Linked DNA regions of Homo sapiens: region 2 is linked to region 1. A link means that fine-mapping ties the variant in region 1 to the expression of a gene that starts in the linked region. Tissue or cell type: thyroid. Region 1 holds a variant in brackets; the other region holds the start of a gene. All regions are shown on one strand. Distances are between the middles of the regions.

The links. PIP is the estimated chance that this variant, and not a neighbour inherited with it, causes the effect.
Region 2: SMYD3 starts here. The variant in region 1 is fine-mapped to the expression of SMYD3 in thyroid (GTEx, PIP above 0.99).

Annotation. Positions count from the first base shown.
Region 1 is chr1:246,550,470-246,552,969 of GRCh38, reverse strand. TFB2M (transcription factor B2, mitochondrial) reads left to right here. Exons shown (of 8, transcript NM_022366.3): 5 at 1,668-1,757. Among named protein-coding and RNA genes, the nearest start is that of TFB2M, 15 kb to the left of the region's middle. The variant C/G (reference allele first, on the strand shown) is at 1,394.
Region 2 is chr1:246,506,229-246,508,974 of GRCh38, reverse strand. It overlaps SMYD3 (SET and MYND domain containing 3), which reads left to right and starts at 1,696. Exons shown (of 12, transcript NM_001167740.2): 1 at 1,696-1,921. The coding sequence starts at 1,758. RefSeq lists silencers at 837-1,069, 1,559-1,738, 2,009-2,058 and enhancers at 1,744-2,244, 2,245-2,745.

The sequences.
Region 1 (2,500 bases):
GATTACAGGTATGAGCCACAGCGCCCAGCCAGGTTTTTTTTCCCTCCCTTTGTTTTTAAATAGAGACAGTGTCTCACTTTGTTGCCCAGGCTGGTCTCAAACACCTGGGCTTAAGTGATCCTCCTCCCTCGGCCTCCCAAAATGCTGGGATTACAAGTGTGAGCTACCATACTCAGCTGAATTTATTAGTTTTAACAGGATTTTTTTTTAATATTTAAGGGGTATTATAATTATTTTTTTTAACTTTAAAACATTAAAAGAAATTTTTTTAGAGACAGGGTCTTGCTCTGTTGCCCAGGCTTGAATGTCGTGGTATGTTCATAGCTCACTGCAGCCTCAAACTCCTGGGCTCAAGTGACACTCCTGCCTCAGCCTCCCTGTAGCTGGGACCACCTGTGCACACCACCACACCCAGGTAGTTTATTTTTGTAGTGACAGGGTCATGCTGTGTTGTTCAGGGTGGTCTTGAACTCCTGTCTTCAAGTGATTCTCCTGCCTCGGCCTCCCAAAGTGCTAGGATTACAGTTGTGAGCCATTACACCGAGCCTAAGATTTGAGACTCTAGTTCAATTCTCTGTAATGGAAGGTCTTCCTGACAACCTTGATCTCGCTATGAGTGTCATCTTTCTTTTCTGCCCAGAATGTTTCATGTTATTGATCTGTTAATCCAGTTTGACGGGAAATGCTTGTTTGTCTTGCTGTGTTGCCCATGCTGGAGTGCTATGGCTTTTCACAGGCACGGTCATCTCACACTGAACCCCCAAACTCCTAGACTCAAGCAGTCCCCTTGCCTCAGCCTTTCGAGTAGCTGGGACTACATGTGCACACCACTGCACCCAGCTTTTTGTATCTAATTCTAGTTTTCTCTGCTTAAATTTCTAGATGCTATTAAGATAGTACTATTAAGACTCAAAGAAGATTAAGATTTTTATAATGCTTATTTGTATTGCTATGGATTAGGATAGTGGGGCAAAAAATGAAGGGATGATTTGCTCCCCCAGACCCATTTAGTAAATACATATTTGCTAGCCATGGAAAGACAGCGAGGGCCTCAGGACCTTGGGGCTGTGCATACGCTATTCAACAAAGGAAAGACAAGGAGAAGAATAGGAAGTGCTGTGTTAGATTCCTGCTGCTAGGGTTATATTCCACTGGCCCATGCCTCTTTTGCCGTGGACCTTTTCACATGTGGTTTCTTGTCTGCGGAGTGCCTTCCCATTCGTTGAGGTAACCTCGTCCTTTCAAGTCAGCCTTAACACTTGTGTGTTGTTGTTTTTTAAGAGATGCGGTCTCACTATGTTGCCCAGGCTGGTCTTGAACTTCTAGGCTCAAGCATCCTCCCACCTTGGCCTCCCAAAGTGCTGGAATTACAAGCGTGACCCCGCGTGCCCTG[C/G]CGTTGCCCCTGCCGGAGTGCTGTGGCTATTCACAGGCACGATCATCTCACACGGAACGCCCAAATGCCTGGGCTCAAGCAGTCCCCTTGCCTCAGCCTTTCGAGTAGCTGGGACTACAGGCGTGCACCGCTGCACCCGGCTTTTTGCATCTAATTCTAGTTTTCTTTTCTTAAATGTCTAGATGCCATTAAGATAGTCCTATTAAGAGTCAGCATTTGTTTTTAATTGATTATAGATGTGTATAACATGTAATTTTTATTTTCCTTTTACTAGAAACTAATGGCAGATCCCGGAAATCCAGACTTGTATCATGTATTAAGTGTTATCTGGCAATTAGCTTGTGAGATTAAGGTTCTGCACATGGTGAGTAAAATCCTTCTGTTTAAAAACGTTTTTCTTTAGCGACAGGGTCTCATTATGTTGCCCAGGCTGGAGTGCAGTGGCACAATCATAGCTTGCTGCAGCCTTGAACTACTGGACTCAAGTGATCCTCTCACCTTAGCCTCTGGAGTAGCTGGGACTACAGCCAGGCGCCACCATGCCTGGCTAAGTTTTAAAATGTTTAAGAATATTGCCCAGCCTGGTCTTGAACTCCTGGCCTCAAGTGATCCTTCTGCCTTAGCCTCCCAGATCACTGGGATTACAGGCATGACCCACTGCACCTGGCTCTATTTTTTATTTTTTTATTTTTTGAGATGGAGTCTCACTCAAGTCACCCAGGCTGGGGAGCAGTGGTTCGATCTCGGCTCACTGCAACCTCTACATCCTGTATTCAAGCAATTCCCCTGCCTCGGCCTCCCGAGTAGCTGGGACTACAGGCGTGCACCGCCACACCTTGCTAATTTTTGTATTTTCGGTAGAGACAGGTTTCACCACATTGGCCAGGCTGGCCTTGAGCTCCTGACCTCAGGTGATCTACCCGCCTCAGCCTCTTAAAGTGCTGGGATTACAGGCGTGAGCCACTGCGCCTGGCCCTGGCTCTAATTTTTAAATATTTACAATGTGGATCTTCACGTGTTCTCGTCACTGCTTCCGCCTGAGAATATGCTGAGGTCTTCAGTCTGCACCTTGCTGTATTTTTTTTTTAAGCTCAGGAATGTTATCTC
Region 2 (2,746 bases), 44 kb after region 1:
GGCCCTGCAGTGCACACAGCACTGCTTCTGACCAGGACACCCCATTCACAGCTGGGGATGTGCAGCATTGCGCTCCCACCTCAGGGCCTTGGCTCTGCCACCTCGACTTGGAATGTTCTCAGCTCCCTCCAGGCTTCTAGAAGCATCTGGGACACAGCTCATGGCTGGATAAGCACCCGAGGCCCCACAACCCAAACAAGCTTCCCATCCTCATTTTATTTTTTGTCAAACTTATGAAAATTTATTAAGATATGACTTACATCCCTGGTAAGTGCACAGCTTAAAAGATATTCACAGATGGAACACACCAGCCCCCAGATCACAAAGCCAACCATGCCCAGCCCCTCCCAACACCCCCAGCCCTGAAACCAGTGTTCTGACTTCTGACAGCACCACGAGCCTGCCTTTTGTACTTTACACTCATGGAAGCATAACCACCTTCATGTTTTAAAATAAATGTTTACTTTTGAAATGACTTTAGATACACAGAAAAATTGAAAGGCACTATAGTGTACTCCTACACCTTCCATCCAGCTGCCCTTAATAATGACATTTTGCATTACCATGGCACGTTTGTCCAAACTAAGAAATTTAGGCCGGGTGGGCTGGGCGCGGTGGCTCACGCCTGTAATCCCAGCACTTTGAGAGGCCGAGGCGGGCGGATCACAAGGTTAGATCGAGACCATCCTGGCTAACACGGTGAAACCTCGTCTCTACTAAAAATACAAAAATTAGCCGGGCGTGGTGGCAGGCGCCTGTAGTCCCAGCTACTCAAGAGGCTGAGGCAGGAGAATCGCTTGAACCCGGGAGGCAGAGGTTGCAGTGAGCCAATATCGTACCACTGCATTCCAGCCTGGGCGAGAATGAGACTCCGTCTCAAAAAACAAAACAAAACAAAACAAACCCCAAAAACAAAAAAGAAAATTAAGCTGGGTGTGGTGGCTCACACCTGTAATTCCAGCAATTCGAGAGGTCGAGGCAGGAGGTTCAGGTTCACTTGAGGCCAGGAGTTTGCGACTAGCCTGGGCGACATAGGTAGACTGTCTCTGGAGGAAAGTAAAAAGCATTAGCCAGGCATGGTGGCGTGAGCCTATAGTCCCATCTAGTCAGGAGGCCCAGGCGGGAGGATTGCACATGCCTGTAGTCCCAGCTACTATGGAGGCTGAGGCAGGAGAATCGCTTGAACCCGGAGGTCAGAGGTTGCAGTGAGCCGAGATCTCGCCACTGCACTCCAGCCTGGGCGACAGAGCAAGACTCCGTCCTAAAACAAAAAAAAGTTACAGTGCAAAGTACTAGTTGTGATGTCATGATGCCTGCAACTTTGAAATAGTTTAACGACAATACGTGTATACATAGCTACAGGTGGGGAGAGAGTGACGAGCAGAAATGGCAAAGTGCTAGGTTGTCTGATTTAGGCGGAGGTATATAGGTGTTCACTGCACTGTTTTCAACTGTTCCGTATGCGTTAAAATGATCGTAATACAATGTTAGAGGGAGAAAAAAAACCCCGCCTGTCTTCTGCGCAGTCGCCATGGGCACGAGCCGCACGCGGAGCCTTACGACCACCTTCAGGTCCCACACACTCCACTCCAGCCGTCCCTCCAGACTCCATCTGCGCATGCTCTTGCCCCACCGCGCCCGCCCCGCCCCTCGGGCGTACGTGTGCGCGCAGGGCGCAGGCGCGCGGGTCCCGGCAGCCCGTGAGACGCCCGCTGCTGGACGCGGGTAGCCGTCTGAGGTGCCGGAGCTGCGGGAGGATGGAGCCGCTGAAGGTGGAAAAGTTCGCAACCGCCAAGAGGGGAAACGGGCTGCGCGCCGTGACCCCGCTGCGCCCCGGAGAGCTACTCTTCCGCTCGGATCCCTTGGCGTACACGGTGTGCAAGGGGAGTCGTGGCGTCGTCTGCGACCGCTGCCTTCTCGGGTGCGTAAGGAGCGCCCTCGCCTACCTGAGTCGCGAGCTGTGTGGGGTGCTGGGGAGGGGGGGGCGTCGGGCGGCCGGCAGCCGCGGGACTCCTGCTGGATGGGGCTGCACAGGCAGCTTGGCGGTGCTGCCCCTGACGCGCGTGTGCCCGGGGGCGGGTCGCTGCTGACAGGCCCCGCCCGGACACCCCCCTAGGTTGCCGCAGCGGGGCTGGGAGGGGGCCCAGGCTCAGCCACTGCCCCCCAACCTGGGCTGCGGTGGAAATGGGAAAGCCATTGGGCAGACTTGAGGGGGAAGCGTTGTGCCGGGGATAATTTTGCTGGGAGACGAAAAGTCTGTGTGCTGGACAGTCTTCCTTGGTGCGGCTGTGGAAATCACACGTGGCGGGCGTGGGGCTGGGTGGGAGCTGGGATGAGTATAAATCAGGCTCCCCTGCAGAGGCCCCGCCGGTAAAGCATCAGGCTTGCAGCAGGTGGAAGAATCTTGATGTCTACGGTGCACCTCTGTGGTCTGGGTTGTGTGTGGCCTGGGGATACGAAGAGGAACGGGACCTCCTCAAAGAGCTGATCAAGTGAGAGAGAGAATTACAGTGTACCAGAAGGGCTGAAATAGAGGGGCAATTAATGTGCTGTGGGAGCATCAGACACGGGTCCCCCGTGTGCTGTGCCATTTAATGGCTGTGCAGGCATGTCTAACTCTTAACCACCATTCTAGATGCAGGGATTCACGTGAAGGTGTTTTGGAAGCCTGGACGCGCTGTGCCGGTGTAAAGTGCTATGTGAAAGCAATTTATGGAAATGTGTAACATACATGAATAATAGGAAC